2 linked regions of the Homo sapiens genome follow. The protein of the gene in region 1 interacts with the protein of each later gene in a biochemical or structural test. Each region holds a gene or a part of one and is shown in the gene's direction. Other genes may lie near its edges.

Region 1 (7,031 bases):
TCTCAAAAATCCAGAGCCAAACATCAAGATGAAGAGAAGCATAGAAGAAGCCTGCTTCACTCTCCAGTACCTAAACAAATTGTCCATGAAACCAGAACCTCTGTTTAGAAGTGTAGGCAATACTATTGATCCTGTCATTCTTTTCCAAAAAATGGGAGTAGGTAAACTTGAGATGTATGTGCTTAATCCAGTCAAGAGCAGCAAGGAAATGCAGTATTTTATGCAGCAGTGGACTGGTACCAACAAAGACAAGGCTGAATTCATTCTGCCTAATGGTCAAGAAGTAGATCTCCCGATTTCCTACTTAACTTCAGTCTCATCTTTGATTGTGTGGCATCCAGCAAACCCTGCGGAGAAAATCATCCGAGTCCTGTTTCCTGGGAACAGCACCCAGTACAACATCCTGGAAGGGTTGGAAAAGCTCAAACATCTAGACTTTCTGAAGCAGCCACTGGCCACCCAAAAGGATCTCACTGGCCAGGTGCCCACTCCTGTGGTGAAACAAACAAAACTGAAACAGAGGGCTGATAGCCGAGAAAGTCTGAAGCCAGCCGCAAAACCACTTCCTAGCAAATCCGTGCGCAAGGAGTCAAAAGAAGAAACCCCTGAGGTCACAAAAGTGAATCACGTGGAAAAGCCACCCAAAGTTGAAAGCAAAGAAAAGGTAATGGTGAAAAAAGACAAGCCAATAAAAACAGAGACCAAACCTTCAGTGACTGAAAAGGAGGTTCCCAGCAAAGAAGAGCCATCTCCAGTGAAAGCCGAGGTGGCTGAGAAGCAAGCCACAGATGTCAAACCCAAAGCTGCCAAGGAGAAGACGGTGAAAAAGGAAACAAAGGTAAAGCCTGAAGACAAGAAAGAGGAGAAAGAAAAGCCAAAGAAAGAAGTGGCTAAAAAGGAGGACAAAACACCTATCAAGAAGGAGGAAAAACCAAAAAAGGAAGAGGTGAAAAAAGAAGTCAAAAAAGAGATCAAGAAAGAAGAGAAAAAAGAACCCAAGAAAGAGGTTAAGAAAGAAACACCGCCAAAGGAAGTCAAGAAGGAAGTTAAGAAGGAAGAGAAGAAGGAAGTGAAAAAGGAAGAAAAGGAACCCAAAAAAGAAATTAAGAAGCTCCCTAAAGACGCAAAGAAATCATCTACTCCTCTGTCTGAAGCAAAAAAACCAGCTGCTTTAAAACCAAAAGTACCCAAGAAGGAAGAGTCTGTCAAGAAAGATTCTGTTGCTGCCGGAAAGCCAAAGGAGAAGGGGAAAATAAAAGTCATTAAGAAGGAAGGCAAGGCCGCAGAGGCTGTCGCTGCAGCTGTCGGCACTGGAGCCACCACAGCAGCTGTCATGGCGGCAGCTGGAATAGCAGCCATTGGCCCTGCCAAAGAACTCGAAGCTGAGAGGTCCCTTATGTCATCTCCTGAGGATCTAACCAAGGACTTTGAAGAGTTAAAGGCTGAAGAGGTCGATGTAACAAAGGACATCAAGCCTCAGCTGGAGCTAATCGAAGACGAAGAGAAACTGAAGGAAACTGAGCCAGTCGAAGCCTACGTCATCCAGAAGGAGAGAGAAGTCACCAAAGGTCCTGCCGAGTCCCCTGATGAGGGAATCACTACCACTGAAGGGGAGGGCGAATGTGAACAGACACCTGAGGAGCTGGAGCCCGTCGAGAAGCAGGGAGTAGACGACATTGAAAAATTTGAAGATGAAGGAGCCGGTTTTGAAGAATCTTCAGAGACTGGAGACTATGAAGAGAAGGCAGAAACTGAGGAGGCTGAGGAGCCAGAAGAGGATGGGGAGGAACACGTATGTGTGAGCGCCTCCAAGCACAGCCCCACTGAGGATGAGGAAAGTGCCAAGGCGGAGGCTGATGCATACATCAGGGAGAAGAGGGAGTCTGTGGCCAGTGGGGATGACCGAGCCGAAGAAGACATGGATGAGGCCATTGAGAAAGGAGAGGCTGAACAATCTGAAGAGGAGGCTGATGAGGAGGACAAAGCTGAAGATGCCAGAGAGGAGGAATATGAGCCGGAAAAAATGGAAGCTGAAGACTATGTGATGGCTGTGGTCGACAAGGCTGCAGAGGCTGGTGGTGCCGAGGAGCAGTATGGATTCCTCACCACACCAACCAAGCAACTAGGAGCCCAGTCTCCTGGCCGAGAACCTGCATCTTCAATTCATGATGAGACTTTACCTGGAGGCTCAGAGAGCGAGGCCACCGCTTCTGATGAGGAGAATCGAGAAGACCAGCCTGAGGAATTCACTGCCACCTCTGGCTACACTCAGTCTACTATTGAGATATCCAGTGAGCCCACCCCCATGGATGAGATGTCTACCCCTCGAGACGTGATGAGTGATGAGACCAACAATGAAGAGACGGAGTCCCCTTCTCAGGAATTCGTAAATATCACCAAATATGAATCTTCATTGTATTCTCAGGAATACTCTAAACCTGCTGATGTTACACCGCTCAACGGATTTTCTGAAGGATCAAAAACAGATGCCACTGATGGCAAGGATTACAATGCTTCAGCCTCTACCATATCACCACCCTCTTCCATGGAGGAAGACAAATTCAGCAGATCTGCTTTACGTGATGCTTACTGCTCTGAAGTGAAAGCCAGCACCACTTTGGACATCAAAGATAGCATCTCAGCTGTTTCAAGTGAAAAGGTCAGCCCATCGAAGAGCCCGTCCCTGAGTCCATCTCCACCATCACCCTTAGAAAAGACCCCCCTGGGTGAACGTAGTGTGAACTTCTCTCTGACGCCCAATGAGATTAAAGTCTCTGCAGAGGCAGAAGTAGCCCCGGTGTCTCCTGAGGTGACCCAAGAAGTAGTTGAAGAACATTGTGCTAGTCCTGAGGACAAGACTCTGGAAGTGGTGTCACCATCTCAGTCCGTGACTGGCAGTGCTGGTCACACACCTTACTATCAATCTCCTACTGACGAGAAATCCAGTCATCTCCCTACAGAAGTCATTGAAAAACCACCAGCAGTTCCAGTGAGTTTTGAATTCAGTGATGCCAAAGATGAGAATGAAAGGGCTTCAGTAAGCCCCATGGATGAGCCCGTGCCTGACTCAGAGTCTCCTATTGAAAAAGTTTTGTCTCCTTTACGCAGCCCGCCCCTCATTGGATCCGAGTCTGCTTATGAAAGTTTTCTAAGTGCTGATGACAAGGCTTCTGGCAGAGGTGCCGAAAGTCCTTTTGAAGAAAAGAGTGGAAAACAAGGCTCTCCAGACCAAGTAAGTCCAGTTTCTGAAATGACTTCTACTAGTCTTTACCAAGACAAACAGGAAGGGAAAAGCACAGACTTTGCACCAATAAAAGAAGACTTTGGCCAAGAAAAGAAAACTGATGATGTTGAAGCCATGAGTTCTCAACCAGCACTGGCTCTGGATGAAAGGAAATTAGGAGATGTTTCTCCCACACAAATAGATGTCAGTCAGTTTGGATCTTTTAAAGAAGACACTAAGATGTCCATTTCTGAAGGTACTGTCTCAGACAAGTCAGCTACTCCTGTTGATGAGGGCGTAGCAGAAGACACGTACTCTCATATGGAGGGTGTGGCCTCAGTGTCCACAGCCTCAGTGGCTACGAGCTCATTTCCAGAGCCAACAACAGATGATGTGTCTCCATCTCTGCATGCTGAGGTTGGCTCCCCACATTCCACAGAAGTAGATGACTCCCTTTCAGTGTCTGTTGTGCAAACACCTACCACATTCCAGGAAACAGAAATGTCTCCATCTAAAGAAGAATGCCCAAGACCGATGTCAATTTCTCCACCAGATTTCTCCCCTAAAACTGCAAAGTCCAGGACACCCGTTCAAGATCACAGATCTGAACAGTCCTCAATGTCTATTGAATTTGGCCAAGAATCTCCTGAGCAATCCCTTGCTATGGACTTCAGTCGACAGTCTCCAGATCACCCTACAGTGGGTGCAGGCGTGCTTCACATCACTGAAAATGGGCCAACTGAAGTGGACTACAGTCCTTCTGACATGCAGGACTCCAGTTTATCACATAAGATACCACCTATGGAGGAGCCGTCCTACACCCAAGATAATGATCTTTCTGAGCTCATCTCAGTATCTCAGGTAGAGGCCTCCCCGTCCACCTCTTCTGCTCATACCCCTTCTCAGATCGCTTCTCCTCTCCAAGAAGATACTCTATCCGATGTTGCTCCTCCCAGAGATATGTCCTTATATGCCTCACTCACCTCTGAAAAAGTGCAAAGTCTGGAAGGAGAGAAGCTCTCTCCAAAATCTGATATCTCTCCACTCACCCCACGAGAGTCCTCTCCTTTATATTCACCTACTTTTTCAGATTCTACCTCTGCAGTCAAAGAGAAAACAGCAACTTGCCACAGTTCCTCTTCTCCACCAATAGATGCAGCATCCGCAGAGCCCTATGGCTTCCGTGCCTCAGTGTTATTCGATACAATGCAACACCATCTAGCCTTGAATAGAGATTTGTCCACACCTGGCCTGGAGAAGGACAGTGGAGGGAAGACACCTGGTGACTTTAGCTATGCCTATCAAAAGCCTGAGGAAACAACCAGGTCCCCAGATGAAGAAGATTATGACTATGAGTCTTATGAGAAGACCACCCGGACCTCAGATGTGGGTGGCTATTACTATGAGAAGATAGAGAGAACCACAAAATCTCCAAGTGACAGTGGCTACTCCTATGAGACCATTGGGAAAACTACCAAGACCCCTGAAGATGGTGACTATTCCTATGAAATTATTGAGAAGACCACACGGACCCCTGAAGAGGGTGGGTACTCATATGACATAAGTGAAAAGACCACCAGCCCCCCCGAAGTGAGTGGTTACAGCTATGAAAAGACTGAGAGGTCTAGAAGGCTTCTGGATGACATCAGCAATGGCTATGATGACTCTGAGGATGGTGGCCACACACTTGGGGACCCCAGCTACTCTTATGAAACCACTGAGAAAATTACCAGTTTCCCTGAGTCTGAAGGTTATTCCTATGAGACATCTACAAAGACAACACGAACCCCTGATACTTCCACATACTGTTACGAGACTGCAGAGAAAATCACTAGAACCCCTCAGGCATCCACATATTCCTACGAGACTTCAGACCTATGCTACACTGCAGAAAAGAAGTCCCCCTCAGAAGCCCGTCAGGATGTCGATTTATGCCTCGTGTCCTCTTGTGAATACAAGCACCCCAAGACAGAGCTTTCACCCTCTTTCATTAATCCCAATCCTCTTGAGTGGTTTGCCAGTGAAGAACCCACTGAAGAATCTGAAAAGCCCCTCACTCAATCAGGGGGAGCCCCACCGCCTCCAGGAGGAAAGCAACAGGGCCGACAGTGTGATGAAACCCCTCCCACCTCAGTCAGCGAGTCAGCCCCATCCCAGACCGACTCTGATGTTCCCCCGGAGACTGAAGAGTGCCCCTCCATCACGGCCGATGCCAATATCGACTCTGAAGACGAGTCGGAAACCATCCCCACAGACAAAACTGTCACGTACAAACACATGGACCCACCTCCAGCTCCCGTGCAAGACCGCAGCCCTTCGCCACGCCACCCTGATGTGTCCATGGTGGACCCAGAGGCCTTGGCCATTGAGCAGAACCTGGGCAAAGCTCTAAAGAAAGATCTGAAAGAGAAGACCAAAACCAAAAAGCCAGGTACAAAGACCAAGTCATCTTCACCTGTCAAAAAGAGTGATGGGAAGTCTAAGCCCTTGGCAGCTTCACCAAAACCAGCGGGCTTGAAAGAATCCTCGGATAAAGTGTCCAGGGTGGCTTCTCCTAAGAAGAAAGAATCTGTGGAAAAGGCAGCAAAACCCACCACCACTCCTGAGGTCAAAGCTGCACGTGGGGAAGAGAAAGACAAGGAGACCAAGAATGCTGCCAATGCCTCTGCATCCAAGTCGGCCAAGACCGCCACTGCAGGTAGGTTGAGAAGGCTGGGCATTGGATATATGTCACAACCATTCTACTTGCGTTTACAGCCTTTATATTTCCCTGTTTGGCTTTGTACTGGGAAGATGAGGGAGCACAATTGATGCTTTACCTTCCCTGTACTCTTCTCCTCTGCCCAAAGGTATATATCTCAGTCCAGTGTGGCCTTAAGGCTTGGAAATAGCTCAGTGTATGGTTCAAAGCAGCTGTGATTCATCACTGGGATTCCTGATTTTGTGCCGTTTTCGAACACAGCAACTACAGCCCTGTTCTAAATCTTCAGAACCAAGGATGTGTCTTTCAGGTGCTTCTGGAAGACTGGTTTCAGCCATACTGGCCTCAGAATCCAGCAGGGTAACACAGGCCAGGAGCTCCCAAAGGCCTAAGGAGAACCAGAGGTTTCACATCAAGACTGGATCAACCAGTCTAGACCCAAGATTTAGAGTCCTTTTTTAAAAAAAATTTTTTTTAAATTAAAAATGTTTACATTTTTATTTAAAACATCACCAGGTTGGAGATAAATCCTCATTAAAGGCAGTGTTCCATTTTCTTATCAGCCAAAAAATACTATAATTTCAGTTGACCAGTGAGTGTCCGGTGAAAATTGAGAGAAAAACATTGATGGCTCTGCTCTTACCCTTCTCTTACCCCATGGCCTCATTAGTAGAGACTCAATGCTATTTCAGATTAAAATTCCACTGGGAAGCTAGATGCATGGCCTCATGCCTGTAATTTCAGCACTTTGGGAGGCTGAGATGGAAGGTTAGCTTCAGCCCAGGAAGTTGAGACCAGCCTGTGCAACATAGCAAGACCCTGTCTCCACAAAAAAAAAAAAATGTTTTTTAATTAGCTGGGTGTGGTGGCACGTGCTTATAGTCTTAGCTACTTGGGAGGCTGAGGCAGGAGGATCACTTCAGCCCAAGAGATCAAGGCTGCAGTGAGCCAGAATTGTATGTATCACTGCATGCCAAGCCTGGGTGACAGAGCAAGACCCTGTCTCTCAAAAATAAATAAATAAGCAAATGAAATGCCACTTGGCAAGAGCAGGTATCCCTGATTTTTGATCATTCATGTTTTTGGTCATGATTCTCAGATTTATCA
Region 2 (6,623 bases), on another chromosome or scaffold:
AGGAAGCTGCCCTCTGACACTGATACAGAAGGGAGATGCAAACGACAGGACATGGCCCCAAGGGGCTGCGAGGTGCTTATGGGGGAGAGAGAATCCAGAAGGGTGATGCCAGCATCAGCCAGATGCCGGGGTGTGGACTAGTGACAGCCATTGGCTTCTGCTCCATGAGGGCCTCTTGCTGACAGTGGTGGGGTTTCTGTAACCCCACCTGACTGGGCCCATGGATGCCGTCTCCAAAGGTGGAAGCAGCTTGGTGAAGTGGGCAGAGTGGTGTTCCTGAGGCCAGAAATGATGGAATCCCTAACTCAACTCTTAACTGCTGTGTGACTTCTGGCAAGTCATTTTGCCTCTCCGAGCCTCAGTTGTCTCATCTGCAAAATGGGGATGACAATGCCTACCTCTCATAAAGACTGAATGACCTAATGACTATCAAATGCTGATGTGTAGTAAGTGCTCGAGAAATGGGGATGATAATGCTGATTTGTTCAGGGCCACTCAGGTTTTGGTTGGAGGCCTTGTACTGGAACAGTGTGACCTTGGGAAGGGTAGAGTGTCCTCTACCCTTTCTGAGCCTCAGTTTCCTTCTCTCTTTCCTCTTCCCTGTGTTCTTGAGTCAACTCTCTGGAAAGCAGAGGAGAAAGAAAAACCTGGAGTTGTTCCCAGGGAGACTAGAAAGGGAATCTCAGTTCATCTTCACCCCATTCTCTGGAGCTCCTTCCCCCAATGATTGACCTGAGATATTCCCCCTAGTGCCTCAGTTTCCCCCATGCCCTAGAGCTGTGATAAGATCAGGGCTACCTCCTCTCCCCTGCCCTCCTCAGGTCACTAAGGGTCAGAGCGATGCCTGGATGAGACAGTGTCTCATCCCTCTCCATGCCGTCTATTCCCATTGATGGCAGCAATTTGAAGGTGTGGCAGGTCTTAGGAGATTCTTTTGGGGAAGCAGGAGCCTCTTCCTCCAGGCTGACCATGGTGTGGTCACAAAAGCCATATAGAGTCCACTCTGGAGGAGAGAAAACTAGAAGAGGAGAGAGGAGAGTAAAACCCTCTTTTACTCCCTTGCTAACTTGGAATGACTTTGGAGCAGACTCGTGTATGATGGGGTGGAGTCGGAGGAGAGCATCCTCTAGTCATAGCATCTGAGCCGCAGCGTGGTGACTCAGAGCATTTGTCTTGGTGTCTGTGCTGCTTTGGGGAGGCCAGAGCTGCTGGCAGAAGGACAGGCTCCCCAACAGTGCTCAAAATCACCCCAACCTCACAACACATATCACTGAAACAGCAACATGGCTACCAGGTATTTAGCACCTACTCAACGTCAGACTCTGTGCATGCATTTATTATCCATAGCTTCACAGCGACGCCGTAAGCTGAGTATCATTTCTCCCATTTTGCAGATGTGGAAACAGAGGCTCTCTCAAGATCACAGAGCGAGTAAGTGGTAGAGGCCACTTTGATTTGAAGCCAGATCACCTGTCTTAAAAGCCCAGGTTTTGCCTCTGTACAATGCTGTCTCACCAAGACAGAAGGGAGAAACCAAGGCCTCTGTTGTGAATTTGTATAACCTTGATATTTGTACAACCAGATTTCATGTGAAGAAACACGTTGAGGGGTGGGGATTACGATGTGCTTCGTCTCCCTGCCCCAGCAACCTCCTTGCCATTTCAGAATTAGAATTCCAGCTTCTATGAAAAGACCGCGTGTAGTTGGGGTTTCAGCACCATGGACAAGACACCAACTCTGGAGGCCTAGAAAGAGCCGGGGCTGGAGGAGAGGGCATGCGCAGCAGAGTGGGGTGGGGTGTTGGCTTTGGTGCTCCCTGGAGTTGACACATCTTGGCTTTGCCTCCTCCGCCTTTCCATCTGCGGAAGGTTGCCTGGGAATCTGGCTCTGCTCCTGCCTCCTTCTGACCTCATCTCCCCATATCCAACCCACCTCTGGCCTCGAGAACTAAGCAGGGCTCTCACGCAATTTAGGAACTGGACAAATCCCAGTGCCGGGAAAATCCCTGGCTGTCAAAGCCCAGATGTATTCACAGACCGCAAACACACCCTTTGCGTAGCTCATGATGAATTGTGCACACCACTGCCCACGGGCATTAAATAGTAAATAGAGGTGGGCCTAATTTTGTGTAAATCTAATATATGAAAATCCACGTTGATTACAGAAACACATGGTTTAGAGGAGGGCTTCACATCCCAGCTTTCACGGACTCCTAGGGGTTTCTGGTGGAAACCTAGAGACTTCAAGGTCATCTCTGAACCTTCTGGAAGTGTGAAACGTTGTTTTCTTGTCTGTGTGTGTGTGTGTAAAAATTTACAAGCCTTTTATTTTCTGGGGAGAGGTTTGTGTGTGTGTGTGTGTGTGTGTGAGATTTCATTAGATTTTCAAAAGGCTCATGAAGTTTAACAAGTGAAGAGCACTGCTGAGCTAAAGAATGATCCAGCTCAGAGAGCCCTTTGGGACTGTGGGGGCCAGTTTGCAAAGTCAAATTCTAACCTCCCCGGGCCCATGCCTTCCTTTCAGTGGCTGCTGGGAAGTAGCTTCTTTCTCTTCCTCCCTCCTACCCCTTCCTCCTCTTCCTGTCCACTTTTGAGAATGGAGATGCCTGCCAGTTCGCAGTATAATTGAGCTATAAAATGCCAAGGTAACCAGCATCCTTAGGAGCCTATTAAGAGATTTAGCTGCAAACATTGGCTCTGTGCACACATTCTCAAAAAAGCCTTTCTATTTTGTGGGGCTCAAGAGTAATTGCCCAGGCAAGACTATTGCTCCCAAATGTGAAGACAATCCACATACAAAGCAATTGCCAAGCTCTGGACAGTAACAGGTCCTCTTTTTCAAGTACTGTTCAATTGCAATTGATTTTGTGTGTGTCTGTGTGTGTGACAGAGTCTCGCTCTGTCACCCAGGCTTGGAGTGCAGTGATGTGAGCTTGGCACACTGCAACCTCCACCTCCTGGGTTCAAGCAATTCTCCTGCCTCAGTCTCCTGAGTAGCTGGGATTACAGGTGCCTGCCACCACGCCTGGCTAATTTTTGTATTTTTAGTAGAGGCAAGGTTTCACCCTGTTGGCCAGGCTGGTCTCAAACTCCTGACCTCAAGTGATCTGCCTGCCTCGGCCTCCCAAAGTGCTGGGATTACAGGCGTGAGCCACTGTGCCCAGTCAATTGCAATTGATTTCTGTAGCGCTAAAGGCTTTGGAAGGTGCTGGGCTCATTGTAATGTGTGTGTTGGCCTGTGTCACGTATTGTCTTTGCAGGGATGGTTGTTCTTCTGAACCATCTGATTTGTGTTTCAGGTATTGCTCTGTCTCACTGCACTTCCTAGAGCTCCTTATGAAATTCTGGGTCAGGGTCAGGGCTCAGTGTGGGACCAGGATCAGAGCTCAGTCTAGGTCCACAGTTGAGGCTTGGTTTGAGAACTTGGTTATGTAGGGCTTTATGGTAGGTGTCAGGGTTCAGTGGGGGGCCAAGGTCAGGGCTTGGTTTATTGCTGATGTCAGGGCTTGGCCTGGAGTCAGGGTCAGGGCTCAGTCTAGGACTCTAGTTGGGACTCAGTCAAGGAACAGGGCCCAGTTTAATCCTGGCACTAGGGCTCAGTCTAGAATTAGGATTGAAGCTCAGTCTGTGGCTAGGATCAGGGTCAGACGGGGGCCCTTTCTCAACGGACTCATGTGGCCTTCCTTTCCGCAGGTGCCCAGGACCCCACGCCCAGGGGTGGAGTCTGCTGACAGCAGGCGTCTAGCCACGAAGCACAGCAGGAAGGCCCTGAAGGCCAGCCTGACGCTGGGCATCCTGCTGGGCATGTTCTTTGTGACCTGGTTGCCCTTCTTTGTGGCCAACATAGTCCAGGTAATGCCACGGCAGGGGGCAGGTGAGTCCGGCCCTTGCAGGAGAGGCCCTGGATCCCAGCCCAGGCATGGGGACAGGGGAGGGTAGGCTGCCTCTCGTGGTGCGTGTGTGTGTGTGTCTGCTCCATACATGCTGGGAAGGGTGGCCTGGGTCCCTGCCCTGGGACCAGGCATGATGCATCCCCTCCCCCCAGGCCGTGTGCGACTGCATCTCCCCAGGCCTCTTCGATGTCCTCACATGGCTGGGTTACTGTAACAGCACCATGAACCCCATCATCTACCCACTCTTCATGCGGGACTTCAAGCGGGCGCTGGGCAGGTTCCTGCCATGTCCACGCTGTCCCCGGGAGCGCCAGGCCAGCCTGGCCTCGCCATCACTGCGCACCTCTCACAGCGGCCCCCGGCCCGGCCTTAGCCTACAGCAGGTGCTGCCGCTGCCCCTGCCGCCGGACTCAGATTCGGACTCAGACGCAGGCTCAGGCGGCTCCTCGGGCCTGCGGCTCACGGCCCAGCTGCTGCTTCCTGGCGAGGCCACCCAGGACCCCCCGCTGCCCACCAGGGCCGCTGCCGCCGTCAATTTCTTCAACATCGACCCCGCGGAGCCCGAGCTGCGGCCGCATCCACTTGGCATCCCCACGAACTGACCCGGGCTTGGGGCTGGCCAATGGGGAGCTGGATTGAGCAGAACCCAGACCCTGAGTCCTTGGGCCAGCTCTTGGCTAAGACCAGGAGGCTGCAAGTCTCCTAGAAGCCCTCTGAGCTCCAGAGGGGTGCGCAGAGCTGACCCCCTGCTGCCATCTCCAGGCCCCTTACCTGCAGGGATCATAGCTGACTCAGATATCGTGTTCTGAAGGATGCTCCACTGTTGAGTGTAACTTGTGTGTGCAGAGGATGGGCTGGAGGACTCTGGATGTTGGGGAGAAGGACCTCTTGGTTCAGGTTAGGATGAAAACAATCATGACCTTTGCCCATTCTGTCAGGCTGGACGGGAGGGAATGCCCCCACCTGCAGGCATGGATTAATGCTGGGCTGAACCCCTTGCTACTCACAGTGTAGTCCATGGACAATCGGCATTGCCGTCACCTTTGGGAGTTTGTGAAAAATGCACATCTCTGCCCCTGCCCAGACCTGCTGAGTCAGAACTGCATGTTACCAAGATCCCAGGTGAATCATGTGCCCATTACAGTTTGAGATGTGCTGCCTTAGATCATCTTTAACCCTCAGAATGATTTGCTGGATGGTTTTTGGACCTGTCAGTCTCCCCTCCCTGGTATATATGTGGCAGCAGCTGCACCTGGGAGGCAGGCAGGCATGCATGTGGGCCTCTGCTCTACCACCTATGAGCTCTGGGGCCTGACACGAGTTATTTAACCTCTCCGAGCCTCGGTTATCCCATGTGTAAGGTAGAGAAATGATGCCTATCTTGCAGGTTGTCTTGAGAATTAAGACAATGTGTGCCCAGCACCCAGTACACGGTCAGTTAATTGGTACGTTCTGTTGTTACGACCCCCGGCTATCCAGCCCCCTGGCCTCTCCGGCTGTGTGTCAGGAAGGGCTCTTTGCTCCCGTTGTTCTCTTTCCATTTGCCTCCCCCTCTTCAGCCCTGGCCTAGCCTCCCAAAGCCTGACTCTGGTTCCCCAACTCCCTGTTCTGGCTCCTGGGTGGGGACCCCATCTCTCAGGGACCCTCCCAGCTCCCAAGCTGCTGCCCTGCCTTTCCTGGGGGCAAAAGGGGCAGGTGGCAGTTTCTTTTTCAGCCTCAGAACTGGTTTTCCTCAATCCTGGGGGGTCCTTGGACCTAGAAGGGAACAACTGATGGGGATAAACCCAGCCCCTTGCCCACCTGCCTCTGGCCTTCCCTGGGGTCAGTGAGAGAAATGGGAATGGTAGCTACTTGGGTCAGCAGAGTAGAGTCAAAGAGCTGTTCCTGGTGTGAGGTGGGGCCCACGAGGCAGGCAGGTGGACTCTGGCACAGGGGCCTTGGTTTCTGGGGGCAGGGGGTTGGGGAACTCTTGGTCGCCAGTTTACCTGCCATAGGTCCCTTTTCAGCCCTGCCTCCCCCAAGTTCCATCAACACAAACTCCCAGGGGGTCCTCCATGCCTGGCCTGGCCCTCTCCTTGGTGCTGATGAGACACAACTCTGGCCCCGGCGGCTGGCCTCTGAGGGGCCATGGTGCTTGCGGGGCTTCCCCTATCCCCCAGGTCTGCCCAAGGGGACTCTCAATAAACTCTAGCTGAAGGCAGTGGCTGTGGTGTGGACTGGATTCAACTGAGGGGCCACTCGGGGCTTGAGAAGCAGCTGGTGTCGTGGGGAGGCCTGGGTGTAGGTGTCCTGGGTTCTGGTCCAGATTCTGCCCCTTCAATCTGGGACCCCAGAAAAATCCTTTCCCCTTTCAGAGCCTCCATTTCCCATGTATGACATGAGCAGCTTAGTTTAAAAGCAACAAGAGTTGCATAAATACTTGTTTTTAAATTTTGTGTTTTAAGAGTTGGAGTTGGCTGGGCATGGTGGCTCATGCCTGTAATCCCAGCACTTTGGAAGGCTGAGGTGGGTGGATCATCTGAGGTCAGGAGTTGGAGACCAGTATGGCCAATATGGTGAAACCCCATCTCTACTAAAAATACAAAAAATTAGCTAGGCGTGGTGGCAAGTGCCTTAATCCCAGCTACTCAGGAGGCTGAGGCAGGAGAATCCCTTGAACCTGGCAGGTGGAGGTTGCAGTGAGCTGAGATCATGCCATTGCACTCTAGCCTGGTGACAAGACAAGACTCCG

Evidence for each region. The genes of interacting proteins can lie anywhere in the genome.
Region 2: the proteins of MAP1B (region 1) and HTR6 form a complex in vitro, tested with the Homo sapiens proteins (one study listed by BioGRID).

Annotation. Positions count from the first base shown.
Region 1 is NC_000005.10:72,194,447-72,201,477, forward strand, and holds part of MAP1B (microtubule-associated protein 1B), read left to right. Parts: coding exon 1-5,921; intron 5,922-7,031. UniProt on the Homo sapiens protein: Facilitates tyrosination of alpha-tubulin in neuronal microtubules. Phosphorylated MAP1B is required for proper microtubule dynamics and plays a role in the cytoskeletal changes that accompany neuronal differentiation and neurite extension.
Region 2 is NC_000001.11:19,674,875-19,681,497, forward strand, and holds the end of HTR6 (5-hydroxytryptamine receptor 6), read left to right. Parts: intron 1-3,692; coding exon 3,693-3,851; intron 3,852-4,044; coding exon 4,045-4,494; 3' UTR 4,495-6,092; downstream 6,093-6,623. UniProt on the Homo sapiens protein: G-protein coupled receptor for 5-hydroxytryptamine (serotonin), a biogenic hormone that functions as a neurotransmitter, a hormone and a mitogen. Also has a high affinity for tricyclic psychotropic drugs.